Regions from separate parts of the Homo sapiens genome. Here all the other regions are linked to region 3. The links come from fine-mapping of genetic effects on gene expression. A gene starts in region 3. Each other region holds a variant in brackets. All regions are shown on one strand. Distances are from middle to middle. Region 1 overlaps OCIAD2 (OCIA domain containing 2). Region 2 overlaps TEC (tec protein tyrosine kinase). Region 3 holds the start of TXK (TXK tyrosine kinase). Region 4 has its middle 15 kb from the start of SLAIN2. Region 5 overlaps TXK (TXK tyrosine kinase).

The links. PIP is the estimated chance that this variant, and not a neighbour inherited with it, causes the effect. A credible set is the group of variants that fine-mapping cannot tell apart.
Region 1: its variant is the best candidate, but not a certain one, in a credible set for the expression of TXK in whole blood (TOPMed, PIP 0.68).
Region 2: its variant is the best candidate, but not a certain one, in a credible set for the expression of TXK in T cells (TOPMed, PIP 0.55).
Region 4: its variant is the best candidate, but not a certain one, in a credible set for the expression of TXK in prefrontal cortex (CommonMind, PIP 0.69).
Region 5: its variant is the best candidate, but not a certain one, in a credible set for the expression of TXK in blood mononuclear cells (TOPMed, PIP 0.81).

What each region holds. Positions count from the first base shown.
Region 1 is chr4:48,878,813-48,885,199 of GRCh38, reverse strand. OCIAD2 (OCIA domain containing 2) reads left to right here. Exons shown (of 7, transcript NM_001014446.3): 7 at 1-181. Among named protein-coding and RNA genes, the nearest start is that of OCIAD1-AS1, 22 kb to the right of the region's middle. The variant T/C (reference allele first, on the strand shown) is at 2,981.
Region 2 is chr4:48,178,219-48,184,605 of GRCh38, reverse strand. All of the region lies in intron 2 of TEC (tec protein tyrosine kinase), which reads left to right. Among named protein-coding and RNA genes, the nearest start is that of TXK, 47 kb to the right of the region's middle. The variant C/T (reference allele first, on the strand shown) is at 3,156.
Region 3 is chr4:48,131,510-48,137,896 of GRCh38, reverse strand. TXK (TXK tyrosine kinase) reads left to right here and starts at 3,647. Exons shown (of 15, transcript NM_003328.3): 1 at 3,647-3,742. The coding sequence starts at 3,727. TEC (tec protein tyrosine kinase) reads left to right here. Exons shown (of 18, transcript NM_003215.3): 18 at 398-2,114. The coding sequence ends at 481. RefSeq lists a silencer at 3,911-4,205.
Region 4 is chr4:48,322,967-48,329,353 of GRCh38, reverse strand. No RefSeq gene overlaps it. Among named protein-coding and RNA genes, the nearest start is that of SLAIN2, 15 kb to the left of the region's middle. The variant TA/A (reference allele first, on the strand shown) is at 2,725.
Region 5 is chr4:48,103,579-48,109,965 of GRCh38, reverse strand. It overlaps TXK (TXK tyrosine kinase), which reads left to right. Exons shown (of 15, transcript NM_003328.3): 6 at 5,011-5,065. It also overlaps the pseudogene RNU6-838P and the pseudogene LOC124900886. Among named protein-coding and RNA genes, the nearest start is that of TXK, 27 kb to the left of the region's middle. The variant T/C (reference allele first, on the strand shown) is at 3,161.

The DNA.
Region 1 (6,387 bases), 750 kb before region 3:
TTGGCCAACATGGTGAAACCCCATCTCTGCTAAAAATATAAAAATTAGCCAGGCGTGGTGGCACATGCCTGTAATCCCAGCTACTGAGAGGGAGGCTGAGGCAGGAGAATCACTTGAACCCAGGAGGCGAAAGTTGCAGCGAGCAGAGATTGTGCCACTGCACTCCAGCCTGGGTGCCAGAGCTAGACTCCATCACACACACACACACACACACACACACACACACACACACACACACACACAACATGTTAGGAATCCTCACACACACACAAATGACATTGCACCCCCACCCCAACTTGCTTACAGCTAAATAAGAGAATTAAGTCTTCTCAGATTAGCCTCTATTCTTTCTTTTACTCTGCTTTTTTTTTCAGTGTTTTAAGTTATCTGATAGAGAATTGGAATTAATGTTGAAGAAGTTAGGAAGTCATGACCCCAAGAAAATTAATGTGTATGGAGATAGAAACAGGACAAGACTGACTTACAGGTATGAGAAGGGCTTCCTAAAATGTAGGGGCAACATTTTTAACTTAGTGAAAAGTGTTTTGTTGGAAAGGGTCAAAATATGAATCAACTATCCTTTCAGTGCTCCAGGTGACCTTATGGTTCAACAGTATGGTTCAACAGTGGAGTTTTGGAAGTGACCATTGTCTTTTTTTGTTTTTGTTTTTGTTTTTGTTTTGGTTTTTGTTTTGGTTTTTGTTTTGGTTTTTGTTTTTGTTTTGAGACAGGGTCTTGCTCTGTCACCCAGACTGGAGTGCAATGGCATGATCATAGCTCACTGCAGCTTCGACCTCCCAGGTTCAAGCCACCCTCCCACCTCACCCTCCCAAGTAGCTGGGATTACAGGTGTGTGCCATCATGCCCACTATTTTTGTAGTTTTTGTAGAGGGGGGGTTTTGCCATGTTTCCCAGACTGGTGTTGAACTCCTGAGCTCAAGCAATCCACCTACCTCTGCCTCCCAAAGTGCTAGAATTATAGGTGTGAGCCACCATGCCTGGCCTCTTTGTCTTTAGGTTATCTGCTTAGCAAATGGGCACATGCTTATGGGCAGCCCTCAAGAATGGGGTTCTTTCATATACTACTAGTGGCCTGAAACAAGAAACACAACTTCCCAAATTGTCTCTCATTTTCCCCAAGGAACAACTTATTTATGGGAGGAATCACTGGAATAATTAATACATGGAATGATAAATTTAGAATTCTAGGGAGTTCAGAGGCAGCCAATGCAACTCCAGGGGTTGGACTCCTATTCTCCTGTCAGATTTGTTGCATGAAAACAACAATAACAAAATCTGGCCAAGTGCAGTGGCTCACACCTGTAATCCTAACACTTTGGGAGGCCAAGGCGGGCAGATCACTGGAGGAGTTTGAGACCAGCCTGGCCAACATGGTAAAATGCTGTCTCTACTAAAAATACAAAAATTAATCGGGCATGGTGGTGCATGCCTGTAATCCCAGCTACTGGGGAGACTGAGGCACGAGAATCTCTTGAATTGGAGAGGTGGAGGTTGCAGTGAGCCAAGATAGTGCCACTGCACTCCACTCTGGGCAACAGAGTGAGACTCTGTCTAAAAAAAAAAAAAAAAATTAAGAAAGAAAGGAAAAAAAAAGAAACCCTTCCATGTGGGAACCTTTTGTTTTATGTATGACAGGTTGTCTGAGCCCTACAGAAAAACTACTCTTGCATCTTTGCAACTTCTCAGAAGAATGCTTTATATATGTATCATCATTTATATCAATATATAGGCAAGGTGCAGTGGCTCACACCTGTAATCCCAGCACTTTGGGAGGCTAAGGTAGGTAGATCACTTGAGGTCAGGAGTTTGAGACCAGCCTGGCCAATATGATGAAACCCCACCTCTACTAAAAATGCAAAAATAGCCCGGTGTGGTGGCACATGCCTGTAGTCGCAGGTACTCAGGAGGCTAAGGCAGGAGAATTGCTTGAACCCGGGAGATGGAAGTTGCAGCGAGCAGAGATTGTGCCACTGCACTCCAGCCTGGGTGACAGAGCGAGACTCTATCTCAAAAAAAAAATATATATATATATAGATAGATAGATAGATGATAGATAGATAGATAGATAGATACATAGATAGATACATAGATAGATAGATATATAAGAGGTTTGTGTATGTACACATTTGGGTTTTACTTAATACATCTTGAACATGTATCATGGAAGTTAAAAGAGAAACTTCATTAAAAGTTAATCGTTTACATGAAATATTTTATTTTAAACATCAAATTATACAGAAGTTTTAATTTTTACATGAACATTAAGAGTAAGCCTCTTTTTATATTACGTATGCTATTTTTTCAGTCCATAAAGTTTTATTTCTGTAAATCAGAATGCAAAGCCAATATCCTATCATCTTAAATGCAAGTTTAACTCTTGTCTCTGATAACTAGCAGTTGGTGACTCTTTGTTATCTCAGCTATTGGCAAAAATTCAGAATTGGGCACATTTATTTCCTACTCCCCAGAAAATGATTTCCTAGGGATCAGAACATTTCACATTGCTTAGCACAGCAAGTCAATGTAAAAAATCTATCCCAAGGTACTGGGGAAAGATACATTTATTTTATTTATTTTTATTTTTATTTTTATTTTTTTTTTATTTTTTTGAGACGGAGTCTTGCTCTGTCACCCAGGCTGGAGTGCAGTGGTGCGATCTCGGCCAACTGCCTCCCGGGTTCATGCCATTCTCCTACCTCAGCCTCTTAAGTAACTGGGACTATAGTCACCCGCCCCCAAGCCTGGCTAAGTTTTTGTATTTTTAGTAGAGATGGGGTTTCACCGTATTAGCCAGGATAGTCTCCATCTCCTGACCTCGTGATCCACCTGCCTCAGCCTCCCAAAGTGCTGGGCCACTGGGGTGAGCCACTGCACCTGGCCAATACATTTATTATTGTTGAAAGGAGCATTGTTTTTACAGATGACATCTTCATAGTTCTTCTCAATCAAATTGGGTTTA[T/C]TGCTTGGGCTTTCTACATTTCCTACGTAGAGAAGTTATTCATTGAAGCAGTTTATCATGACGATCTATCTTAGAGTGAAAGAAAATCAATAAGGAAAAAACTGGAAGTTCATCCAAGAGGCTTTGATTATTCTGCTGCTATTTTTTTGGGTTTCTTGTTCGTTTGTTTTGTTTTGTTTTGCTTGTCTGTCGCCCAGGTGGACTTCAGTGGCACAATCTTGACTCACTGCAACCTCTGCCTCCCAGGTTCAAGTGATTCTCCTGTCTCAGACTCCTCAGTAGCTGAGATTACAGGCATGCACCACCACGGCTGGCTAAATTTTTGGCATTTTTAGTGGAGACAAGGTTTCACCATGTTGGCCAGGCTGGTCTCAAACTCCTGACCTCAAGGGTTCCACCTGCCTCAGCCTCCCAAAGTGCTAGGATTACAGGCATGAGGCACCGCACCCAGCTGCCTATCTATTGTACATATTAGAAAGCTAGTACCTGGGGGAGAATGTCTGTTTCTTGTGTTAAAGGAACAGCACCTGCCTTTTGACATTTCACCATTACCAACACTCATCACAAAGCTGGTCACAAGCTTATGAAAGCAGTACCTTCATGATAAAAAAAAAAAAAGAAAAAAACTTGGAAAAGAACAGCAAGATAAAATCGTAGATAGACTCACGTGAAAGAAAGAACTGATGAGACTACACGGTAGTAAAAGTTGGATGTCTAACCAATTTTATTGGCAAACTTTCCCTAGGATGATATGGACTGATATTCTACAGTGACGAGAATGCAAACCTTCCCATTATTTTGAATTTGATTAATGGAATTTAAAATGTAACATTAGTTTGTCCACGGATGCACCTGTAAGAAGAGACAAACTTGATATCTGAAATCAGCAAACCTTGTCTAACACATTTGTAGTTCCTCTAGACAACATAATAAAATGTTTTTAACAGCGGGTAATGACACTAATGAAAATAAGGAAGATCCTTACTCGACCAGAAAAGATCAAAATGATTTCCTTAATTCCATGCACCTCCATGGCACTCCAGTGATGCCTAGAAGTGTGTTTCTTTCTTGGCTTACATACAAGTGGATGACTAGAAAGGATGCTTTCAAGATATTTTTAGTTTCAAAGGCATTAACCAAACATTCCACCATTAGCTATGGTGATCATTTGTTCTAAATTTTGCCTCAGTTTGTGTGATCCTGGAGTTCAAAAGTTATTACTATAAACTGTATTCTAATGAAATGTATGTTTTATAATTTAAAAAATAGTGGAATAATCCTTTTGTGTTTGTTTCTCTTATTAAAATAGATCAGTTTCCAGAAAGACTCATATGTTATAGATATTATACTGTATATTATTACATATATAAATATGTAGCATATAATATACTGTATATAATGCTTATTATATATTTTAAAATTCTCATTTAAACAAAGATATTCTCTTCCTTTGCTGTCAGAATGGTTTGTCTAGTTTAACATTATGAAAGTAATAAAAATGTATCTTGCGTGATTTGATTAAGTAATAGCAATAAAAATGTATCTTGAATGATTTGATTAAGTAATGAAATGTAATGCAAATGTTGTGTAGGCAATTTTCTTGATATTCAAACAATGCAAACTGTTAATTGACAGAAAACCTCTCCATTTTGGAACTCTGCTCCCAAATTTCAACTATAAAATTCAGTTTTGTAGACACTTGGAGTTGGCAGAGATTTCAGTGATTAACTCAGAGGCTGCAAAGAACAGGACCAGACGGACAATGTAATTGAGTGAAGCTGAGCTAGTGGCATATTAAACAAAGGTGTATTCTTCACTTCCGTACACAAAAATAGATAAGCCCACTGTTGCCAAATCTTCCACTTGTTCAATATTCAGTGCAAGCAAATGCAGGTTTTTATGTGAAATCTCCCGGTTTTAAAATATTCACATTCTTTCATATATTTAAATATTGAGCACTCATTCTGTACTAGGAACTGTCCTAGGTCCTAGGAATATAGCAGTGAATACAACCAACAAAAATCTCATCCTCCTGGAGCTTATATTCTCATCACCAGTTCTTGGCTTGGGATCCAATCCAACCCCAACCCCGCCCCCCCACAACCGGCAGCACTCACTGTGGAAGTCTCCTCCGTACTGTCCCAGGAGGTGAGATTTCAGGACCCCCCACATACATACTTCCGAGGGAAGGACACCTACTGCTCAACAATGCAGCCCAGTACACTGCCCAGCTGTTAAATTCTTCAGAAAGTCTTATGGGGAGCCCAAGTTTGCTTCCCTCCTGTTCTAAACTGGAAATTCCTCCAAGATAGACAGTGTACTCATTTTTTCTTATCTCTGAATCCTCAAGCAGCATACTTGCAGAGATGGGCATTTCATAAATGCTTTTCAGCTTAAACCTGTAATTTGCCGGTGGCTACAAAATACAATTCTCATTCCTCTTTTACAAAATAGCATTGAAATACTGGAAAGCATGCTTCCTGGAATTTGGCTAAAGGGCCCTAGTTTTATTTACCATTGGAGTGGGTTTCCAACCCTGTCACAACCTGGTCTTGGGATAGCTTTCGGCCTGTGGTGTCCTCATACACAAAAACTCCAAAAATGGATTGACCAGTTCAGAAAAGGGCAGGATTATTATAATTTTTGCTTTAGGGACCGGAACTGTTAGCAAGAGAGGCTCTGCATCAGGCCCTGTGCTTCAAATCCAGGCTTCACCACTTACTATCTACTTGACTTTGGGTTATTATTTATCTGCTCCAGGACTCAGTTTCCTCATCTGTAAAATGGAAATAATATTAGACTTACCTGATAGGTTTCTCAAGAGAATTAAATGGGCTGATACTTACAAATTACTTAGAATAGTGCCTGGCTCAGAGTAACCACTCAATGGATGTTAGTTATTACTACTACTACTATTACTGAAATTTAAGAATACATAATTAGATTGCATAGTAGATTGTTACTGGCCCTAATTATTAATACTTACCTCTCCTATACCCATGCCTTTTGTCATGCAATTTTGCATTACCTTCCTACTGTGAACAGGGGCATATTTACCTATCTTCTTGACCTTCAGCTTGTGGATATGACTTTAGGCAAAATATAAGCCCAAAATGAAGGTGTGCTGAAGTTCCAAATTTAGGCTTAAAGAGGCCTTTTCTGTTTCCATTTCTGTCTCTATCATGGCCATAAGAAAAACATGCCCAATACTAGATACAAAAGCAATAGCCTGAATGCTGATCCATCAGCTGTTGCCTAAGGTCTAATCCCTGTAATAAATCCCTTACTCTATATCATTGATAGCAGTTCTGCTTTTCTATAAAATCTTAATTAAAAAATGTGGTAGGAGGGCAGAGCAAGACGGCGAATAGAAGGCTCCACTGATCATCCTCTCATCACAGGAACAC
Region 2 (6,387 bases), 47 kb before region 3:
ATAGCAATATATGTACAAACAGAGGTTCTTTATAATTGAATTGAGAAAAGAGGTGGGAGAGGGTGTCATGTGGCACACAGTAATATAAGCATGTGGATGGCAAGAGAACTACTTACGGAGAGATTCAATTCCAGCCAACACCCCATCTGTCACATCCAAGTAATGTTAATTTCACTTTATTTGCTGTATAGTTTTGTTTGTATTTAATTTGTGAACTTTCTTTGATTTTATAGTTGTATACAAGCTATAAGTTTAAGAAATTTCTACTGAATTTATGTTTGCACATAGTTAAATGATACCAAGTTACTTAGGTATAGGTGGCACTTACAAATTCAGGATTGGAATTAAAGTTCAAATCCTGGATTATTGTGTGACTTTGGGCAAGTTAATTATACTCTCTATGTATTGATTTCTCCATCTGCAAAATGGGGGTGACAGTAATTCTCATGTTATAATGCTGTGAGGATTCACTGAGATTATCCACATTAAGAGGCTAATGTATTGCTGGTTTATAGTAAGTGTTCTATAATTGTTAGCTATGGACATGATAATATTCTTTTTTTTAATAATAAAAGTCCATAACTATTCAAGCTTTACAGACCTGGAGTCAGGTAAAAGCATTACTGTTTTTGAGGGATTTTAGTTCAATTCTGGCTCAGCCTCTACAATCCTTAGCCAGTCTCATAGCCTCTCAGTGCTCAGTTTCCTGCAACTTCCTAGGGTTACTGTGAAAACTGACAGTATATGCTACTATTTGGGGAGTGAGTTTGTATTAATCAGGGTTCTCTAGAGAAACAGAACCAATAGGATACATATAGATGTATATGAGGAGATTTATTATGGAAATGGGCTCACGCAATAGATTATGGAGGCTGAGAAGTCCCACAATCTGCCATCTGCAATGTGGAGACACAGAAAAGCTAATTGTGTAATTCAGACCAAGTCCAAAGGCCTGAGAACCAGGAGTAGGGGAGGAGGCTGCTGGTGGAAGCCTTGGAGTCTGGAGAGCCAGGAGCACCAAAGTCTGAGAGCAGGAGAAGATGGACATCCCAGCTTTAAGAAAAGAGTTCGCTTTCCCTTTGCCTTTGTTTGTTCTATTTGCCCCCTCATCGGATTGGATGATGCCCATCTGCGATGGCAGAGGTGGATCTTCTTTACTCACTCAGCTGATTGAAATGCTAATCTCTTCCAGGAACACCTTCACAGACACCTGGAAATAACGTTTTACCAGCCGTCTGAGTATCCCTTAGCCTACTCAAGTTGACACATGAAATTAACCATCACAGAGTTCCATGTGTCAGACACTGTTAAGCACCTATGAACATTATCTTTAATCCTGCTGATAGCTTGGCAAAGAGAGCAGCATTGTCCTATTTCTACGGAGAAAGGAACTGAAGCACAGAGAGAAAACTGGGATTGCCCTAGGTCGTATGGCTTATAAGTGGCAAAGCAGAGGCTAGAAGTCAGGATCTGCTTGTCTCCAAAGCTCATGCTCCTTCTCTGAGGTCCTCTTGCAATGCAGACATGATTCACCCAGGAGATTTCCTCTGCCACAAGACCCTGGGAACAGCCACATCAGGAATAAAATTTGTGATGTGGGAAAGGGACGAATCATTTGGAATATTGGAGGGACACCCTGGCAAGCCTTTCCCTGTGTGTGGTGGGGACTCTGGATGCCTTGGGAAAAGGACAAGAGGGTGTCCTGAGATAAATGACTTCTCAGATCACCTGAGACCAGCCTGGTTATTTGTATACATTTTTTTCTCACTTAATTTCTTTAGATTAGGATGGATATTTGTATTATTAAAATACAGAGTATTCTGGAAATTAAAGGAAAACAGTGTACCTTGTAAGTCTTGCTGGGGGACAGAATCTCATCCATCTAACTCCGAGTTCTGCCATTCAGTTGATGTGTAGTTTAAAGCAAGTTATATTTCATCTTAATGCCTCATTTTCCCATATACGCTGGTTTACAATATATAAAATGGTCATTGCTTACTTCCATTTTCAAGCTTTGCAAAGTGTGCAAGAGAGGACACACACACACACACACACACACACACACACACAGAGTATTGCCCATGGTCCTTTGCATACTGGGTCAGCACACTGTTGAATTAGTATCCACTAAGTGTCAGGTGGTCTTCTTAGCTCGGCAGATTCATAGAGGATTCAAAGGTGAGTCAGGGAAAGTCTCAGCTTTATCATGATTTTCAGTCTAGTAAGCAGGGCAAAGGCTATAGAATAGAAAGGAAATATAACACAAAAAAAAGTAATGACCTTGGATATTTCCCCTTGGGCCACAATTTTTTTTTTTTTTTGAGATGGAGTCTCGCTCTGTCACCTAGGCTGGAGGGCAGTGGTGCGATCTTGGCTCACTGCAACCTCCACCTCCTGAGTTCAAGAGATTCTCATGCCTCAGCCTCCAGAGTAGCTGGGATTACAGGTATTTGCCACCAAGCCTGGGTAATTTTTTTGTATCTTTAGTAGAGATGGGGTTTTCCCATGTTGGGCAGGCTGGTCTCAAACTTCTGACCTCAAGTGATCTGCCTGCCTTGGCCTCCTAAAGTGCTGGGATTACAGGCATGAGCAACTCCACCCAGATGGGCCACAATATTAACAATAGCATATAGCATATGCCATGAATCATGAAGTATTTTCTTACTGAAGAAATTCTAAAGAATAGTCTAAATGGAGGAGAAACTGTGAGTTCCTTCTACGGTAACTGCTCAGAAATCATTTCCTAAAGCTTTTATTCCTAAAGGGCCCCACTGTGGAAAAGCTTTAAAAAGCTGGCATGTCAGGAGTTAAAGTGGGCTCGGGGAGAAAGTGCATGGGATAGCATGCCTCACTCAGTAACTCTCTGTTCCCTATGGTGAATCCTTTATCCCTTCCAATTCTTTTCTTTTTCTTTTTTCTTTTTTTTTTTTTTTGAGACAGAGTCTCACTCTGTTGCCCAGGCTGGAATGCAGTGGCACTATCTCGGCTCACTGCAACCTCTGCCTCCCAGGTTCAAGCTATTCTCCTGCCTCAGCCTCCCAGGTAGCTGGGACTACAGGTGCGCACCACCATGTCTGGCTAATTTTTGTATTTTTAGTAGAGATGGGGTTTCACCATGTTGGCCAGGCTGGTCTTGAACTCCTGACCTCATGATA[C/T]ACCCTCCTTGGCCTCTCAAAGTGCTGGGATTACAGGAGTGAACCACGGTGCCCAGCCCTTCCAATCCTTTTTTTCCGCAGCCCTGCCTAACCTCCCAGGGTTACCTTCAGATGTGGCTAGAATAAGCTGCCACTATATATACTGTATATGTGTTGTGAAAAGCAGAATTGTCTTTATAAAGATGGCGCTAAGCATTTCTGCAGCAGAATTGTCTTTATCTATAAAGACAGTGCTAAGCATTTCTGAGTTCTGGACCCATATTTTAACTTTCACCTGGTTGTTCAATTGTCACTCAAACATTTCCCAGCCCTGCCTCCTCGCACCTGATTGTCCTTCTGTGTTCCTTCTCATGATTCATGGTGTCCGTGTTTCCTGGTCACTCAAACTCAAAATCCGTTAGCCCCCCTCAGTCCTTCTCTACTCTTAATCCCCATATCTAAGTGGTCACAAAGTTTTGTGAACTCTGCCTTCTAAATTATCTGGTGTCTTTGCTTTTCTTACTTTACTGCCACTGACTTGGTTTAGAACTTCATCTCTCACCTGAACTATTACGGCAGTTGCCCAGCCAGCCTCCCTGTCAACACTCACTCTTCACCTGCCGTTAATCATTATATTTTTAAAAACACACCGCAGTACTGCACTCCTGATTCTCCATGTAAAACTGCTCAGAATAAATCCAAACTTGTAAGGCTGGTGCAGAAGCATCTTCCTAATGTGGCCTCAGACAGCCTCTTTGGTGTCATTCCCTACAAGCCTCCTAAAGCACCCTGAGCTTCAACCACAGTGAATTTCTTTCTGTTCCCTAAATACTCAGCACTTTGTTGTTTTGCAGCCTGAAACTCTCTCCATTATCTCTGTAGGAAAACTCATACTTATCCTTTAAAAATAAAATCAAAATATCACTTCCTTCCTGAATCTTCCCCATCTTCTTGTGGCCCCATCACTGCCCCACTCTGTAGGATACCACAAGAGAACATTGCTTGATCATTACTAGACTGTGAATCATCCCTCTTCCCCTTCCACCCATCATATTATGAAATCCTCTTGAAGAGACCCTCAACCCTCCTTTCATAACTTTGAAACTCCAGCACTCAGCATGGTGCTTGTTGCCCAGTTGGGTTGGTGTCCCATAGTATTTGCTGGCAGAATAAATAAAAGAATGAGTGATCAACTTACATGTGAACCTGTATCTGCTAGTTTCATAACAAGATATTTGGAGAAAGTCAGTCCAAATATTGTTAGGTTGGTGCAAAAGTAATTGCAGCTTTTGCCATTGCTTTTAATGGCAAAAATTACAATTACTTTTGCACCAGCCTAACCGTACAGGATATTAGGAGATTATATATCACAGAGTATGAATTTAGGGGACATAAGTAAAATCAAGTCATCCCAAATTTTCTTATATCTATTTATCCACATCTGACAGCTGCTTTTAGAAGCCAGGCCAGGTGGTACATGGAGATATGGGTGTTTTGAAAGCAGACCATGGCCTGCTGCTCCTAGAGCTAGACAGTTATTTACTAAATACATGCAGATGGGCCAGACATTCTTCTAAGCACTTTGCAAATATTAACTCATTTAATTCTCATAACAAACCTAGGAAATAGATACTATTATTATTCCCATTTTACAGATGAGGAAACTGAGGTCAGGTGGAATGTGTTTTTTCTTTGCATCTACTGTTCATTTCACTGAGATTTCTCTTCCTGCCATTCCTCTTCTGAAATGTAAGCCATTGTTCTCTGTGCTCTCTTAGCATCTTTTTTATATGTAGTGCTCACGCCTGTAATCCCAGCACTTTGGGAGGCCGAGGTGGGTGGATTACCTGAGGTCAGGAGTTTGAGACCAGCCCGGCCAACCTGATGAAACCCTGTCTCTACTAAAAATACAAAATTTAGCTGGGCGTGGTGGCACACGCCTGGAATCCCAGCTACTTGGGGGGCTAAGGCAGGATAATTGCTTGAAACCAGGAGGCAGAGGTTGCAGTGAGCCATGATTGCACCACTGCACTCCACTCCAGCCTGGGTGACACAGCAAGACTCTGTCTTGAAAAAAAAAAAAAAAAAAAAAAAATATATATATATATATATATATATATATATATATATATACTACCCACGTCATTACATGATAGTTGCTATGTCAGTCTGTTCCACAAGTAAACTTGGGCACATTACTTAATTTTAGTTTCTTTGTCAGTAAAATGGGTGTAGTAATCCTTACCTTGCAGAGCAGCTGTGAGGATTAAAAGCACCTGGCCCAATTCTGCGGCTACAAGCTCAGGAAATGAGCTTGTCCTATTGTCTTTTTGTCATTCTTCACACAGTTGTTGACACATGACAGGTGTTGTCCTGTGAGAAACTGAAGGGAAGGGAGAAAAGGAAAACCAGGACAACCCAAAGTCAGGGCCACTAAGGGCGCAGAAGAGTGTCAGCACTTGCAAATCTCAGAAGGTGGCTTACAATTCAGAGAAGACCGTTTGGTTTGATCATCAGTAATGTTTTCGATAACAGCCTTAGCAGGCTATGAGGTGGGAGGCAGATGCAAGTGGTTAAGGAGGGAGTGGGTGGTAAAGAAATGAAAACTGAGGGTGCACTGTCTTCTCTTTTAGGAACAGAGGAGAAGGGTTAGAGTAGCAGCAGGTGAAAAGCATGCTTCCCGGTTTGGATAGGAGAGCCCTGAATGCGTCTGTAGGCAGGGTGGGAGAAGCCCTTAGCAGAGAATGACCAGAGAGGATGTCCTTCCTTCTCCCTGCTCTGGTGGAAAGGCTGCTTAGAACCCCTTTTGTCCATGGTGGGACTTGGCTCCATGAGTCCTCTTACTGCTTTGCATCTCGGGCATCTCTCACAGTCTAGCTGGCTTTGGGTAATGTACCCAAAATGTACCCTTTCAGCTCAGGGCCTGGGTAATGTACATAACTTGTCTCAGCTGCAGTTTCCTCATCTGTAAAATGAGGAGAATAATGTGTACCTCACAGGGATATTGTGAGCACAGAATGAGATAACATGTGTTCAGTGCCAACGATAGTGTCTCAACCATTGTGTCTTTTTAACTTTTCTCTTAGAGACAGGGTAAAAGAAAAGCAAAAAGGGTAAAATCTTAGCATTTTCTTGAACTGCAGAAGGAAGAATTTGGGGATGTGCCCCTGGATAACTGCTGTCTCCTCTGTAAAGCAGAGAGGGAGTGAGTCCACCGAGGCAAAGGGAATGGGAAGTTTGTAGTTTTGAGGGC
Region 3 (6,387 bases):
AACACAGTGTGCACAACAGTGGAGACAGTGGCCCTATTTAACAGACAGCCCATGTGAGGGATTTTGTGGGGAACAAGATTGGGTAACAAGAGGGTCGGGAAGTGGCAGATTATAGAGGCTCCTACAAATTTGCAGGACTTGATTTCACAGGCAGTAAAAAGATCTATCAGGGTCTTGAAGAGAGACATGAAAGCAGTGTCTTAGAAACGTTAGCCTAGCAGCAGTACATGCAGGGTAAATTAGGGTAGAGACAAGACCCCTTTGGAGATGCCTGTATGTCCTAGTCCCAAAGCAGTGAAGTCTCTCTGTAATATGCTGTGTTTAGGAGTTGGAGCAGTGAGAGGTTTTGTGGAATGGATTCTGGAACCCACAGCTTCTCTTTGACTTTTAATTGTAGAAACCAGAGGGAAGGCCTTCTTTCGAAGATCTGCTGCGCACAATAGATGAACTAGTTGAATGTGAAGAAACTTTTGGAAGATAAGTGATGTGTGACCAGTGGCTCCCAGATTCCCAAGCACAAGGAAGGATGGGCATTTTGTGGCTTTTAATTTATTGAGCACTTGGACATGTAGATCATTTTACTTATACAGTGGAAACACATAAATAATTTGCTTCTAGACCAGCCTCTGTCTAGACTTGCTTCTAGACAGAATCTCCCAGAGTGTGGAAATGTTGCCTTAGAAATGGTGATTAAAATCACTCATTTCTATTCATTCCTCAGGCACTTGAGTGACAGTTGTTTACCAGGCACTGTGTGTAGCCCCAGGGTTTGGCCATTCAGGGGTGCACACATGGGACCATGTTAGCTGATGCCAGTTGAAGGCCAGGGTATTTGGGAAGGGGAAGGGTATTAGAGTCATGACCAAGCAACCCTTCTTTTTCCCTTTGACTTCTACAGAAATCTGGGCCTGAGACATTGTCTACAATTGGGTTCTAGATACATCAGGAACCCATCTTGGATAAATAAATACCTATCTTTTGTTTTGAAAACATCTCAGTTTTCAAGACTGCTCTTAGTATTACATGAACAATATTTGTATGCTGTATATATTGTAAATATATATAATATATAAAGTTATATATTTATGAGAAACACGAATTGTCTTTTAATTGAAACTTTTAATCCTGTAGTATAGGAGTTCACCTTCTTAGGACTAGAGACTGTGCCTTATAGCTGTTAATTCATTTCCCCCTGAACATCAAATATGCCTGAAGAGAAGAAAGTCTAGATTCTTCTATGAGTAACGCCCCCTCCTCACTCAGGTAAATGTGTCTGGGGATGCCTGTCCAGCTTAACCACGTGCATTTGGCCTATGTAATCCTGCCCATGGTGGCCGCAGCTAATCAGAATCAGATGGAAAATTAAACCGGGTAATCTACTTCTAAGCCTTAAGAATATTCCCTGGGACACAGACACTATAATTGGAAGTGCTGAGCTCTGGGGCAGAAGGATCAGGTGACCTTCGCAACAAAGTTTGCCCCCACCTCACATAGGACCCGGAAGCAGCCTGAGCTGTGGCGGAGGATCCAGGAAGCTACGGAGAGAAGCAGCCAGCATGGTGTTCCGTGCCTCCCGGACGTTTTTCAGGAGGCCTGGTTGGACTTGGGTTCCTGGATGGTGGGATTGTTGTACAGCCTCTCAGGAGACCCTGCTGTCAAGACTGTGTGTGTGGATTTCTCACCCTTAGAAGCTCTACTAAGACATCAACGGAATTAGGGCCTTCCTTTTTGCCTTGTGAGCGCCAAGGAAAAGAAACTATCTCGGTCACGTGAGCGCCAGCGAAAAGAAACTGTATCAGTCATCCAGAGACCGTTTATTGCCCAACACGTTATTCTTGCTGTTGGTGGGGTAACTAGCCGAGGAAGACACAGCGCCTTCCCTTCAGGAGTTGCGTCTCCTCTGCAGGCCACGATGGTCTGCTCTGGAGCATTGGGTGAACACACAGGCTGGCTGCTCTGGGCAGCGCCTTCACTCTGACCCTGGAGAACCATTTCATTTCATCCTGGTCAGTCTAGAGTCTGTGCACCAGGCAGTCCATCCACTGAAGGCTGTGTTTATTCTTTTCCTGTGCCCCTCATAATGGAAGAAAGTAAACTGCTTATCCCGAGCCTTATCACAATCTGCCACATTCCTTCTTGTCTACCTGTTTAACTGTACCCCCATCACAAAAACAGGCACAACTTTTTTTTTACATTCCAGGGTACATGTGCAGGATGTGCAGTTTTGTTACATAGGTGAACGTGTGCCATGGTGGTTTGCTGCACCTATCAAAAACTCATCACCTAGGTATGCATTAGCTATTTTTCCTGATATTAGCCTGATATATATATTTCCTGATATTAGCCTGGCATGCATTAGCTATTTTTCCTGATGCTCTCCCCTCATCTGCCCTCCCCAACAGGCCCCAGTATGTGTTGTTCCCCTCCCTGTGTCCATGTGTTTCATGGTTCAGTTCCCACTTATAAGTGAGAACATGTGGTGTTTGGTTTTCTGTTCCTGCATTACTTTGCTAAGGATAACGGCTTCCAGTTCCATCCATGTCCCTGCAAAGGACATGATTTCATTCTGTATAGCTGCATAATATTCCACGGTGTATATGTACCACATTTTCTTTATCCAGCCTATCATTGATGGGCATTTTGGTTGCTAACCATGCACAACTTTTAACTGACTTGTAGCTCATTGAAGGAGTCGGTCCTGGCACACTCTACCTTACTATCACTGTCAGCCTTTTCTCCTTCCTTCCTGACCTTCCCTCCTCCCATCCCATACTTCCCTTTTCACCTTGAGGAGCTACGGGAAGTACTAGGTGGTATGAAAGAGAGTGAGGAGAAGATAGAGTCCCTGTCCTAATGGTCAGTGTATGCTTTTTATGGGAAAACAAGATAGATAGCACCTGGCAACATTTGTCAACATTTCCTTCAAAAATCTTTAAATATTTTTCACTAAGACTTAGAAAAAAAGTTTTATACGAAAGCATAACAAAGGCAAAAGGTGAAGTAAAAATAACAGTCATCACCCAGAATGCTAAGGAGACCTTAATCTAAACCAGGAAATTGGAAGGGCGATTAGAATATGCTGTGTCTTCATTAAAGTTGCTCTGTTAATTAGTTGACACATGGTTATGCTTTCCAGTGGGATGAAGTGAAACTCCCAAGTGTGTTTTGTATTGTTGGTGTTTTTATATTTCTCAGCCATCCCCCAATCACATTTTAGGGTTATTACTAGATTGACTTCCCCCAAATAAAGTGTCTGCTGAGTGGGAGGATGGAACATTCTAAACTCAATATTCCAGAGCCTAGAATCTAATTGTTTCTGCCACTCACGGTGTGGCCTTGGGCAAGTCCCTTATTCTGTCTGTGCCTTCATTTCCTTCCCAGTCCAGAGAGGGCAGTTTGATTTGATAATTTTAAAGGTGCCTTTTACCAAAATTTTGTGATTTCTTGAAAATGATGTTTGCGAGTCACCCACACCTTTGGGGATGAGAGACTAATAGCAGATACCCTCAGAGATTGGGATGGAGATTACTGAGCTTTCTTATATATGCCATTGGTTGTCATTTATACTCTTCTGAGGTTTTCAGAACAGGAAAATAGGTGGGGTTAACTCTGCCCGTGAGAAACATCTTGAGCGAACTATGATTTCAGTTGAAAGATGTGTTTTTGTGAGTAGAGCACCGCAGAAGAACTGAAGACTGTTGTGTGCTCCCCGCAGAAGGGGCTACCATGATCCTTTCCTCCTGTGAGTAAGATGGGCTTTGTCATTTATTTTTGGGGCTTGTTCTGGGGCCTGTTATTCTTGAACAGCAGAGGAAGTTTTTTTTTTCCAAGGCATAGAGCTTGGGGACATTAAAAGATAATTTCCTCAGATGTTGTGACAGAGTTTTGTTTCTTATTTAAAGAACCACAGTGATGATGTAATTCTAATAAAGGTTCAGCATTGAGAACATAAATGAAAGAAAAACAGAAAGAGTGTCCAGAAATCTGCATATGTGTGTGTAGAAATGCAATCAGTATGAAGTACTTGTTTTTAGAATGAGACTGTAATGAGCTCTGGGCTGAAGGCCAGGAGACCAAGTTCTAGTTCTGGATTTGCTCCAGCAGTGGTGGATCACAGTGGGCAACTTTATATATATATAAATACACACACATACACACACACACAAATAAATATCTATATTTAAGGCAAAAGGAAGAGAAGTCAAAACACAACTGTGTTTATACTCTGAAATTATCTGCTTTATCAAGTAAACATATAGACTTAACCTTTATTTTCACAGGGGTATTTATTCACAATTCTATGTAGACTTCCGTTATCGAGGACCTTTCCCAAGCAATTGAAATTTAGGCAAAACTGATTCTTATCTGCAGTCAGAGCCTGAGTAAAGGCCAAAATAAGAGTCAAAGTCACGAGTCTCTACCTGGTTAAAAGTGTGAACATGGTCAAGTGTGAACACTGGCTCAAATGTCTCTTTCCCTCATATATAATACTACATATGAAGATGTTATTTTAATATTTTTATAGAATATAAGACCATCATTAAAAATAAGTGCTTGTTTTAGGAGAACAGAGAAAGATTCCCTAGACACTGTTATCTGTGAAGATCCTTGGTTTGAAAGAGCTGTGGGGGATGCTTATAAATCCAAAGAAATTAGAATAAAAAAAAAAACCAAGCAGAATAGTCTTCTAAATAAGAAGGCAGCCGTCATATCAGAATTGCAATGTGTTTGTTTCTTTATAAAGGTATTTATTGAGCACCTACTATGGGCCATGGTCTATACCAGTTCCTTTATATTCATTATCTGAAATCTTCACTACAAACTGGCAAGGTGAAAATTGTTATTCTTATCTAGCCAATAAGAAAATTGTGCCTTTGAAAGTTTAAATCTTGCCAGAAACTCATATGGTTGTCAGACGCAGGATTTAAGTATGAGACTTTTTTTTTTTTTTTAGACAGAGTCTTGCTCTGTCACCCAGGCTGGAGTGCAGTGGCACGATCTCAGCTCACTGCAACCTCCACCTCCTGGGTTCAAGTGGTTCTCCTGCCTCAGCCTCCCGAGTAGCTGGGACTACAGGCGCATGCCACCATGCCTGGCTAGTTTTTCTATTTGTAGTAGAGACAGGGTTTCACCATGTTGGCCAGGTTGGTCTCAAACTCCTGACCTCAAGTGATTTGCCTCAGCCTCCCAAAGTGCTGGGATTACAGGCATGAGCCACCACACGCGGCCAAGCATGAGACTTGCCAGACTCGGGATTTAAGTGCTCTTCCTTTTGCCTTAAATATATATACACACACACATACACACATATATAAATGAGTTTATATGTATAAATAAGCTCTCAAAGGGAGTGTGTGTATGTGTATATTTGTATACATATAAAGCTGCCAACTGTGATCCACAAATGCTGGACGAAATCAGAACTAGAACTTTAGCCCAGGCCACTCCCTTTTTGCCCACCTTGCAACAAAATATAAAGAAACAATAAACCTGAGAGGTGCTTTAAGAACTTTATTTTGGGAGTTGCTTTGGAAGACTATTCAGTCCCATGTGCAGTTTTGGAAATACTTATTAATTTACCTCTAAGACTCAGAGGGCCTTATTTTGCAGATAAGGAAGGAAAATACTGTCTGATTTTAATACTAGGTGACGATGGAACCAAGCTTCAACAAAGCTCAGTCATATCAGATTAAAGCAATCAAAGACCAGCTAAAAAAGTCAAGTTTTTACATTTCTGACTTTTAAGTAGCATTAAGGAAAAATTGATTGTAATTTTTAAATATCATCTGTTTAAGCGAAATCCCCTCATAGGAGCCAACAATTGTTTGTAGATTTTGTAAAAAAAAAAAAAAAAAATCAGGTTATTCCAGTTGTGCTGACCTGAAAATAACTCATAGTCTTCCATTCACGCAGATAAGAACAAGCCTCCTGTAAACAGAAATATAGGCCAAGCAGAGCAAAGCAGAAAAAGCGACAAAGCAGCAACCTGTGTCCCCTGCCACCTCCACTGGCAGGACAAGCTCAGCAGTGACTTAAGGATCTTTAAATATTAAAAGCTGTGTGAGCATCTGCTCTTTATTTCCCTCAAGGTCAGAACTAAAGAAAATGCTGTAAATTACAGCAGGAAGGATTCGGTTATATATAAAATAAATCACTGTGAGTGTTGAGACAAGGATTTGATTGTCCAAGGGATTAAATAAGGGACTACCTATTGGCGGGATATTTTGAGGATTATTCTCTCTGGCATGGATTTGATGAAATCTCGTTCTCCTTTCCAGCTTCTGTTAATTTGATTTGATGGTAAGAATCACCTGTTGTCTACTGTATATTGCAGCTGAATGTGGCTACATTTTCTGCTGGGTAAAACAATGAGTGTTTACTATTGAC
Region 4 (6,387 bases), 190 kb before region 3:
ATAAAGATTTGGGTTCCCTAAGCTCGGAGTTTCTCACTGGTAACACAACCCACTGGGTGTATAAGCCCCACCTGGCTTTATTCATGTCTCCTTGTGGGAACCAGAGCAAATGCTGATACTCTGGGTACTATTGCTATGAGTGATACATTGTCCTTTGTCTCTAATGCAGGAATCTTGTGTCTTCTGCCATGAAACTTGAGGCAGGCTAACTTGATAGCTTGCAAGTAGGGCAAAATCCTTGAGTTCTCTACCTTGCACTAATTCCTGCTTTGAGTTCTTTCCAAGACATACCTATGCTTTTGCCCTTCAGCTTCCTGGGAGAACCATGTGTCTGCATATTAAAATCTCTCTTGGGCTGGGCACTCACACCTGTAATCCCAGCACTTTTGGAAGCCGAGGTAGGCAGATCACGAGGTCAGGAGATCGAGATCATCCTGGCCAACATGGTGAAACGCCGTCTCTACTAAAAATACAAAAATTAGCCGGGCATGGTGGCACGTGCCTGTAGTCCCAGCTACTCAGGAGGCTGAGGCAGGAGAATTGCTTGAACCCGGGAGGCAGAGGCTGCATTGAGCCCAGATGGCGCCACTGCACTCCAGCCTAGGTGACAGAGCGAGACTCCCTCTCAAAAAAAAAAAAAAAAAAACTCTCTTTTATTTAGGCTTAGGTGGTGTTCTGTTACTTATAATCAAAACTGCCCTGATATGGCCAACAAAATCTGTTTCTTTCTGAAAATTGGACAATAGGGGGAAATATCTGTGTGGTTTTCTAAGTGCTTTCATTCATCAAACATTTGTTAAGCAGCTGCAGCATTCCAGGTATTATGCTGGATGCTGAAGCTACAATAGTGAACAGCACATGGTTCATAGAATTTCAATTTTTGTAAGGGAAGTGGTATAAACAATATGTAAACCAATACATAATAGCTGCTAAGAATGAGAAGTGCTATGAAGAAAACAAATGAAGAATGAAGGCGGAGAGTAAAGAGGAAAGCTTCCTTAGATAGAATGAGTGGGGAAGGTGACTTTGAGGGAGTGGCATTTAAACTGAAGTCTGCAAGATGAGAAGGTGAAGGATTGGTACCAATTGAAGAAACAGTGCATGCCAAACTCTTGAGATGTTAGCTTAGGGAATTGTGAAGATTGAGAAAAGAACAAGCATAAGTAAATGTAGTAAGTAAGGGGAAGAATGCCATTTGGTGCTGTAGGGAATTGGGAATTAGGTGGGGACCAGATTATTCAGGGCCTTACAGACCAAGGTGAAGAGTTTGGATTTATTGTGTGTACAATGAGAAGCTGTTGAAGAGTTTTAAGCACTTGAGTGACAAGACCCAATTTGCAATGAGCTTTGCTTTTGTGTGGAGGATAGATTGGAGGAAAGCAAAAGTGGAAGCAGGCCAGTTAAAAGGTTGTTGCTTCGTCCAGGGGAGAGATGATGGTGGCCAAGAATAGGTGGTGGCAAAGGTGAAACGGGAGAATTCCCTGATTCCCCTTGCAGAATGTGCGACAGGGGTGTGGCTCGCCCATTTGGTCTCCACCACTGCTCAAACCCCTGACAAGAGGCGGAGCATGCTTATGGGCAGGTGCAGGAATGGGGAAAGTGCTTTGGGCTCCAGCTCCATGGTAGTGTCTAGGGGTGGGTGCCTGCGGCCTCAGTGTTATAACGCTTTCTTAGCCTTGCCATCTGCAGACAGCTTAAGTGTTAACGAGCTCAGTGTACCCTCTGCCTTTTCTCAAGGAGGAGACCAGTGTGACAGCTTTCTGTATCCTAAGCTCTTGCCCAACATCCCAGAAGAATTGGGTCACATATGGGCTTGAAGGATGAATGCAGGGTTTTATTGAGTGGTGGAGGTGGCTCTCAGTGGCATGGATGGGTAACTGGAAGGGAAATGGAGTGGGAAGATGACCTTCCCTTAGAGTTTTGGCCATCCAGCGGCCGAACTCCTCTCTGACCACCCCCAGATGAGCTCCTGTTGGCATTCAGATGTTCCTTCTCTTGTCTCTTTCTCTGCCATGGCATTCGTCTGCTTGTCTCCTCATCTCCCCATCTCCTCATCTGCTTCTGGAGTCTGGGGTTTGGGGTTTACATGGGTACAGGATAGGGGGGTGTGGCAGGCCAAAAGCTAACTTTCTAGGCATGAAAGCAAAAATGCCTGTTCCCTCTTAGGACTGCAGGTCTCCAGGTTTGAGGGTGGGGCCTTTGCCAGGGAAATGAATGCCCTCCTCTGCCCAGTATTTCCCTGTCTCCTGTCCATATCAGTGGTGATAGAGAAAGTAGATTCCATGCTGAGGAGACTGGGACAGTGGATATGGGTGAGGGGTGGAGAGGAGAGAGGGTGGCCATCAGGGAGAGTGGTGGGGTGGAAGAGATTTAGGGCTGAAGAAATGAAGAATACCATTTGGAGCTTTGTTTACTTTGATCTTTCTGTGCAAGAGTAGACACCCAGTTGGCCATTGGAGATGGAAGCCTAGAGTTAGGTACAAGATTTAAGTTGGAGATATAATTTGGGGGTCATCGACATATATATGATACGTGGTTCCAGAATCTCAATCTCCAGGCTTCTTTCAGTTCACTCTCTCAGGCTTGGTGCTCACCCTCCCCAAATCAGGGCATACAGGAACTTCTGAATCTCCTGTAAACCATGCACAGGTCATGAAGAACTAGGAGCACCATCTCAGGCTTTCCCTCAGCCAACAGTACCACCACTACTTTTTTTTTTTTTTT[TA/A]ACTGTGGCAATTCCACATTGGTAAATGTCTTACTCCAAGGTGGCCTTCTCACAGATACCCTGACAGAAAGGAGTTTCTGCTGACATAGGGAGTAGGATTCTGGGTTCTTTCTCAGGATCATATCCTTCCGTGTTCATGCCTATAAATGGAAATAATGTTCCCTTCCCACCCAAGCATAAATGTTTATTCTATTTTTAAGAGGGTTTTTCTTTTTCTTTCTTTCTTTTTTTTTTTTTTTTTGAGACAGGGTCTTGCGCTGTTGCCCTGGCTGGAGTTTAGTGGTATGAACTTGGCTTACTGCAACCTTAACCTCCTGGGGTCAGGCGATCTCCCACCTCAGCCTCCCAAGTAGGTGGGACCACAGGTGCCTGCCACTACACCTGGCTAATTTTTGAATTTTTTTGTAGAGATGGGGTTTCACCATGCTGCTCAGGCTGGTCTCAAACTCCTGGCCTCAAGCGATCCGCCCACCTTGGCCTCCCAAAATGCTGGGATTATAGGCATGAGCCACTGTGCCTGGCCAAGACTGCTTTTTAAAATAGCTTTATTGACATATATTATATACCATAATATTCACCCTTTTAAGTGTATAATTCAATTAGTTTGAGTAAATATGCAAAGTTCTGTAATCAACACAGTCACTAAGTTGTAGAATATTTCTGTCTTCCCACCAAATTCTTCATGCTTATTTGCAGTTACTCCTTGTTCCTTCCCAAGCCCTAGGCAACCACTAATCTACTCTTTGCTTCCTCAGATTTGCCTTCTCTAGAAATTTCATGCAAATAGAATCATACAATATGTGGTCTTTTGTGTCTGGCTCCTTTTACTGAGCATGATTTTGAATTTCATTGAAGTTGTAGCATATATCACCATCTCATTCCTCTTTTATTGCTGAATTGTATTCCACTGTGTGGATATACCACATTGTGTTTATCCCTTCTCCTGTCGGTGGCCATTTGGGTTGATTCCATGTTTTGGCTATTATGAAGAATGCTGCAAAAATAACATTTTCATTCACCAATGTCACTCAGTTGTTGGAAGAATTACTTAATTTTTAAAATTGTGGGATAAGATGGTATAATTTGGAGTTTTTCCTCTAGTTTCCAATTTCTCAGAAATTTGGTTACACTGTATTTATAGTTTTAAGAATAAATTTCATTCGATTTAAATTTTATCATAAAATAGACCAGGTGTGCAGTGGCTCACGCCTGTAATCCCAGCACGATGGGAGGCCGAGGCAGGTAGATCACTTGAAGTCAGGAGTTACCAGCCTGGCCAACATGGTGAAACCCTATCTCTACTAAAAATACAAAAAATTAGCGGGGTGTAGTGGTGCATGCCTGTAATCTCAGCTACTCGGGAGGCTGAGGCAGGAGAATCACTTGAACCCAGGAACCCAGGAGGTGGAGGTTGCAGTGAGTGGAGATACTGCCACTGCACTCCAGCCTGGGTGACAGAGTGAGGCTCTGTCTCAAAAAAAAAATCTACATCTATATCTATATATAAAAAATATATATAAATATACAGATATTTAAAAAATATATATATATACACTTTTTTTTTTTGCAATGTTTTGCTCTTGTCGCCCAGGCTAGAGTGCAGTGGCACGATCTCAGCTTACTGAAACCTCAGCCTCCCTGGAATTACAGGTGTGTGCCACCACGCCCAACTAATTTTTGTATTTTTAGTAGAGACGGGGGTTTCACTATGTTGGCCAGGCTGGTCTCAAACTCCTGACCTTGTGATCTTCCTACCTTGGCTTCCCAAAGTGCTGGGATTACAGGCGTGAGCCACTGCACCCGGCCCATAAATTTTATCATAAAATAGTTCAGTCGTACACAAAGGCATAAGAAGAATAACAACAAACCCATCATGTAGCCACCACAGATCAAGAAATATTCCTTTTCCAGGAGATAACCACTATCCTGAATTTGTGTTTATCATTCTCAATCATTTATTTGTATGTACTTTTACCAACATGTGCACATTCTTATACAATATACATAAAAATGATGGTGCTATGTACTCCTGTTAGTACTTTAGTACTAACTTATTGTAATTTTCACAGTAACTATAAGATGTGGAAAATATTATCCCCACTTTACAGATAAAAAATTGGAGGCCAGTCGAGGTTAGAGACTTGCCTGGGTCTTACTGATAGTAAATAGTGGGGGCACGTTTGAACCAGGGAAGTCTGACACCAGCACATCTGCATGACTATGCCACACTGTTTCAAATGCTGTTATACTATTATTGGTATTCTTATCCAATCTTCTTTTTCCCTCAGCATTATGTTTTCAAGATTCACCCATGTTAATACATGTAGGCCTAGCTCATTCTTTTTCACTACTGTATGGTATACTCTTCAATAAATAGACCACAATTAATTTGTTCATTCTTCTATTAATAGAAGACACAACCAACAATGTTGTAAGTACATACTTGTATATGTCTCCTTGTGCATATATGCAAGAGTTTCTCTAGGATATATACTTACAGGTACAATTTCTGGGTTACATGTGCATCTTCAAATTAACTAGATATCCCCAAGCATTCTCTAAAATGGTTACCATTTTAGTTTCAGGAAATAAGTTTGTAAAAAATTCTGCTGTCCATAGTTATCATGTATAAAATAATCAGATACTACAATAAAAGAGAAGAAAGTGTAATAAAAGTGACAAAAAATAGAAGCTAAAATAGAATAGCAAAGTAATCAAAATCTGCCATTTATAAATTCTCTCTTTTAAGTGCATGCAACAGAGGTGGAACAGCATTTCTCTACTCTCAACTTTCCCTTCCTTCTAAGCAATATTCAACTCTCAGACCTTCCCTGAAGAGTGTGGATGTGATAGATTACTACAAATATTAAAATCTCTGAATTCAACCTGAATTATCTTAAAGTGGATTTCCCTCACAAGTCCACGTTTTATTTGATCCCCTCCTCTTCAAGCATTGCCATAGGTTCCCTACCAGCTTGAAACTTGCTATTTAATTTTCATTCACAATTATGGAGTATTAATGAGCTGAAATGCTCTGTTTCATATAGAGATGTAAATACAATATACTGATATAGCTATAGACCTCAAGTAAGGTTTCTCAGCAAAGACCCATGATAGGCCAGGCGCAGGGGCTCATGCCTGTAATCCCAGCACTTTGGGAAGCTGAGGCATGCGGATCACTTGAGGTCAGGAGTTCGAGACCAGCCTGGCCAACATGGTGAAACCCCGTCTCTATTAAAAGTACAAAAAATTAGCCAGGCGTAGTGGTTCATGCCTGTAATCTCAGCTACTCGGGAGGCTGAGGTGGAAGAATTGCTTGAACCTGGGAGGTGGAGGTTGCAGTGAGCCAAGATTGCACCACTGTACTCCAGCCTGGGTGACAGAGTGAGACTCCATCTCAAAAAAAAAAAAAAAAAAGGAAAAAGAAAAGAATCATTGGGAAAACTGGAGGAGCAGGTTCAGGAAATGAGCAGGAACTGAAGGGACTAGGCAGTCTGGAACTCAGCCAGAGATACCACCAGAACAGTCTGCTTATCTTGGACACTTGCTCTCACCCCTTGACTCTGTTCTCACTACTGTCACTCCACTGGACGCTGGATATTGCCTCCAGCAACAGAATTAATGCTATACTATCCTGTTCTTGCTTCTTTGTATCAAAACTC
Region 5 (6,387 bases), 28 kb after region 3:
AGACTAGTCATATGTTTTTTATAAATTTAGATTTTCAGTTTGAGCATCTCCCCCTACCTTCATCCCACTTGGGCACTTATCTTAAAATTAGCATATGCTTCCACCAGGTGGCAGTAGGTAATATGCATTGAGGCATTAAGACAAGTGCTTCTCTGAGAACCAGGCAGCAAATACAATTGAATGAGAGAACCTCCTTGGTTGGTCTTGCTACTAATAAAGCCCACCTGGAGGCCTAACTCAGTACATCTCTCCTAAAACAAATTCGAATTCAAAAGCTTTGGTGGATAATGTAGACTTTATTGGAGGAGAGAAGGAGATGACTTCAGGACACATGACTCATCTACATTACTCTATGAGATTTCTCCAGTAGCTATTTCTGTTCTCTCTCCAGTCACTCTCCTCAGCTCCATCATAGGATCTCTTCTCTCTTTTCCCACCTTCACTTGGCCTCCTGTCTCTATTGGAGCCATTTAGCCCTTCCCGAGATTCTAATCTCCAGTAAATCAAAGTTCTCAGGTGACTGAACCCACCTTCCTTAGAAAACAGTTCCAAAGTGCTCACTTCGGCAGAGCATATACTAAAATTGGAATGATACAGAGAAGATTAGCATGGCAATTTTTAAAAATTGAAAACAAAAGAGGCCAGGCATGGTGGTTCATGCCTGTAACCGTAGCACTTTGGGAGACTGAGGTGGGAGAATTGCTTGAGCTCAGGAGTTCAAGACCATCCTGGGCAACATGGTGAGACCCTATCTCTATAAAAAAAGGACAGAAAAAAAAAAAAAGCAGTTCCACAGCTATCTACTCAAGAGCATGTCCTCATGAGGTCTCACTGCTATCCTGAGCTGAAGCTGACCAACAAAAACAGGCCTCTTGCAAAGCCAGGTCAGAGATTTTGTATGTATTTACAGATATTATATGAAAATCTCTTGCTCAGAAAAATTAGAAAAATGAGACTTTTTTTCATATAATTTGGATTTTACAAGCGATTAAAGGAGACATTTGTGAAAGTAGCTAACACAGTGCCTGGTGGTTAGTGAATGGACACTCACTACCTAGGAATGTTACTTTCCACCCTTTCATTATTCATTAATTTGCTCATTGATTACCCTGTTTAGACAAGGCCTAGGCTCTGGCTATAACAGCCTGTTTATACTGTGGATGTTGGATCATCTGAATTAAACTACTCTGGGGCTACAACTGCTACCTCATTTCCTTGGGCCTTGATTTATATATGTGTTTTTTTAAAAAATCATCCTTTTTAAAATGACTCCAATTATGAGAAAACTCATTTTTCATTTTATTGCTGTTTTTAAAAACAGCTTTATTAATATGTAGATAAAATAGCTATCATTATTGATCACTGAAATTTATTGATCACTATGTGCCAAGCACTGTTCTAATGACTGTACGAAAGTTACTGCCCTAGGTTGAAGTACTAGAGCATGTGTATAGAAATGGGAACAACCTGGGTCCAAATCCTGGCATCAGCACTGACTAGTGCTTTGGTTCTGGGCAGAGTTACCTAATGTCTCTAAACTTCTGAATGATCTGAAAAGCAGAGAAAATAGTATCTATTCTATCTGTTACATAATACATGTTCAATACATTCTAGTGATTATTATTATTTCATGAACTATGAAACTAACAGGAAAAACATTTACAGTTTGGGCTACCATGCCTGGTATTTACAGGCATTCAACACTCCTTCGTTACTTCAGTCCTCAAATCACCTTATTTGTTCCATCTGTATTTATTGTACACTTACGATGTACCAGATATAACAACCTGAAATATACAGTTATGGAACTTACAGTTCTTGGGGAAAAACAGACATTAAACAACCCTAAGTCCACAAATAAATGTACAATTTTATTTATTTATTTATTTATTTTTGAGACAGAGTCTCGCTCTGTCACCCAGGCTGGAGTGCAGTGTCGTGATCTCGGCTCACTGCAAGCTCTGCCTCCTGGGTTCACGCCATTCTCCTGCCTCAGCCTCCTGAGTAGCTGGGACTACAGGCGCCCGCCACCACGCCCGGTTTTTTTTTTTTTTTTTTTTTTTTTTAAGTAGAGACAGAGTTTCACGGTGTTAGCCAGGATGGTCTCAATCTCCTAACCCCGTGATCCGCCCGCCTCTACCTCCCAAAGTGCTGGGATTACAGGCGTGAGCCACCGCGCCCGGCCCATAAATGTACAATTTTAAATCGTAGTGTTATGATACACTGGAGCCTGGGGCGGGGGTTGGGGCGAGGGCGGCAAGGGGAGGGAGAGCATCAGGAAGAAGAGCTAATGGATGCTGGGCTTAATCCTAGGCGATGAGTTGATCTGTGCAGCAAACCACTGTGGCACACATCTACCTATGTAACAAACCTGAATATCCTGTACATGTACCCCGGAACTTAAAATAAAAGTTGAAGAAAAAAAATAAAATAAACTGTAGTGTTTTGAAGGAACAGTATTGGACGCTGTGGAAGAAAACAGGGCAGGGGATGTAATTCAGATGGGGGATGTTGGGTTGGCTCTGAGGAAGTGACTTGAGGTCTAAAGGTGGTAGCAGGTAGTGTGTGTTTTGGGGGGAGGGTGGGGTATGGTGGAAGGAATGCTGTGTCAATGTGGAGTTCTGATATTTCAGAGGAACCTTTGTGCATAGAAAGATTTATGGCTACTTTAAATGAATATCCGAATTATCAATATTACAATGGAAAAACCTAGTTTTCAGAAAGTCCTCAAATTCAACTTATAAAATTTGGTATACTATATATAAATCTAAAGAAGTAAGAACAATCAGCTTAATTCAAACTCAACATACTAGATATCCTTAAACAATCAGTCCTATTTATAAGCTCAGTTAATTAAATTTTTGGAAACTTTTAATTTGCATTAATAAACTGAATAAATTCAGTTTTCTTCCAAAGTACTTCACATGCCTGACAGGGCAAATTTACAATTGTAATAAGCCCTATGCAAGTCTTTAAATGATCCTGGAAATCTAATAAACTAAACTTATAAATGTGGGAAATCAAGTTCTTTTAACTGTACAAATATCATTTTAAAAACAAGTCAAATTATCTTCAACTTCGGATAACAAGTTTAAAATTAATTATGCCTTTTAAATCAGAGGCAAATATCTAATATGCCAGATTCTCTTAAAATAATAGA[T/C]ATTTTAAATACCAAACATATTGATTATTCCTGAACTTTACAGAAGCATGAGTTTCATTTATCTCATTATCTGTACACGGAATCCTTAATCTTCTCACAGTTAGAAAGTCATTTACTAAGAGAAGCAGATTTACATTCTCAGATCTAATGGGGTTTCTAGATCAAAAATTCAAGAACACAATACTGTTTACTTATAGAAATCTAAGATTGGGACATGAGACCAGAGGTGTTCACATAACATACAGGATGTTTCTACTCACCCATAGCTGGACGTGCTGGATTTAAAAAAAAATGTTCATAGGATTCCTGTCCCTAACTCCTTCATACACATCATTTGGTCTTAGTTGTAATCAATGTTGTCTAGGTCTAAGAGTTGTCTAAGAGTTACAGTTTTACTTACATATTAAAAAAAAAAAACCCTTCTAACTTTTATAATCTGATTTAAATAGATGAAATTCTGAAATACTGTGCTCTTGCCTCCTCTAAGTTCCATTCGTTCAATCTCTTTCCTGCCTGATAGAATTCTGAATTATTTTAAAAGATCTTGAATTTGTCACATACTTCTATCTGGCAATATTAGATTAAGTTTAAAACCTTCTTAAAAATCTTGTTTTTGAGTGCTTGCTTCGGCAGCACATATACTAAAAATTGGAACAATACAGAGAAGATTAGCATGTTCCCTGTGCAAGGATGACACACAAATTCATGAAGCATTAAAATTTTTTTAAAGTCTTGTTTTGAAATGAAAGCCTTTCAGTTTTCCTTTCTCTCTCTTTTGTTCTACCATTTTTTCTTTCTCCTTCCTGTACAACATTTGCTTACTGACTAGGTATTACCATATCAAACTGTATGTTTAGCTTACAGTATTAGTTAATTATGTTTACTGTGTGTACTTCTGATATTCTAAAGTCATTTAACTACATGTTTCATGCAGAGAAAAACAGCATGATTGGGGGCAGAAAAGGGGTTGGTGAATCTGAGGAAGGAAATAATTCCAATGAGACTGAAGCTTAGTGAGTGAGGGGAGACTCAGGAGAGAGATGAGGCGGGAGAGGGTGTTAGAGGCAAGTTCATGTATTGGTTGTTCCATGTATTCTGTTTTTTGATTTTTTAAAAATTTTATATTAGATCTAGAGGGTACACATGCAAGTTTTTTTTTATCAACAGTATATTGTGTAATGGTGGGTATTGGGTTTCTGGTGTACCCATCACCCAAATAGTGAACATTTTATCCAATAAGTCATTTTCCAACTCTCACCCCCACTTCCATCCTCCCTGCTTTGGGAGTTCCCAGTGTCCATTATTTCCATCTCTATGGCTATGTGTTCCCCCTGTTATCTCCCACTTGTAAGTGAGAACATCTACTAACTACTGACTATACTATGACGTAATATACTTAGGAGTGTCAGAAAAGTAAGAATGGGCTTTAATTTTTGGAAGGGGTAACAAAGCACCTATAAAAACATGTAAATAGGAAGTTTCTGAGAGGAAAGACAGAAATGAGTATTTTTTCAGTTTGTCTGCCAAAACTCAGTGTTTGTTCAAGATGATTTACCACATACCTTTCATGGAAATTTATAAGAAGTTAAATCATTCATAATGATATACTAAGTGTATATTGGAAGCTGAATTGAGATATGATAGAATAAACTAGATATTGATTTGAAAATAAAATTATTTTAAACTTAATTAACCCACAATAGTATATTATTGTTTATCTGAATTTAAAAAAACACTCAACTTTCTAAGCTCAGTTCTGAAGTAAGTTCTTAAAAATGAAGAAAATGAAGCACTTTTTTCTTAAAAAAATTGAATATAAAATTTAAAAATCATTTTTATTGCTTTTACAGGTGGTACCATAGAAACATTACCAGAAATCAGGCAGAACATCTATTGAGACAAGAGGTAATTCAATGTATTTGTGGACATTTTCAAAATCTCTGAGAAGTACTTATAAAGACTTTAACCAACTAAAAAAGTATATTATTTCTTGTCTTTTCTAGTTCTAAAATATCATTACATCCCAACTATATATTTTATGTGAAGTTGTAAATCAGATATATTTGTATTAGATCATGTTTTCCATCAACTTTCATTATAATTTCAGAAATACGTTTCTCCTGAAAGGCTTTCAGCTCCAACATAGGCAGACTCCTGCATTCACTCCAAGGTGCATTCTGCCAATGGACTCTCTCTCTCTCTCTCTCTCTATATATATATATAATATATATATTATATATATATATTATATATTATATATATAAAATATATATAATATATAATATTATATATTATATATATAATATATAATATTATATATTATATATATAATATATAATATTATATATTATATATATTATATATAATATTATATATTATATATATTATATATAATATTATATATTATATATATTATATATAATATTATATATTATATATATTATATATTATATTATATATTATATATATTATATATTATATTATATATTATATATATTATATATTATATTATATATTATATATATTATATATTATATTATATATTATATATATAAAATATATATTATATATAATATAATATATAATATATATATATATATTTTGAGACATGCTCTCGCTCTGTCACCCAGGCTGAAGTGCAGTGGCTCGATCACAGCTGACTGAAGTCTTGACCTCCTGGGCTTAAAGCTATCCTCCCACCTCAGCCCTCTGAGTAGCTGGGACTACAGGTATGCCACCATGCCTGGCTAGTTTCTTTGTATTTTTTATAGAGACAGGGTTTTGCCATGCTGCCCAACTGGTCTTGAACTACTGAGCTCAAGTGATCAGCCCGGCTTGGCCTCCCAAAGTGCTGAGATTACAGGTGTGAGCCACCACGCCCAGTCTGGAGTCCTGTATTTGAGTTGCTCATTATAACCTTTGCATCAAAGGCAGTCAAGTATAAACTTGATCCTCAGGAACTTAGGTTAGACTCATTAAAAACACAAACAAAGAAAAATACATGCTGCTGCAGTTTCTTTGTTCTTTGGAAACAAAGGAAAGAGTAGAATAGCCAAAATATGAAACTGAGATCAAAACTGCTCATTTAGGTCAAACCAACACAAAGCTGCCTATAGTTTAAATTTCCAACTGTCAGTAAACATTAACTGTGGGTAAAAGTAGAGTCAGAACTAGAAACTAGGTAAGAGTATGTGTGTCATTTTGCTCTGCTGTTGGATATTGAGGAA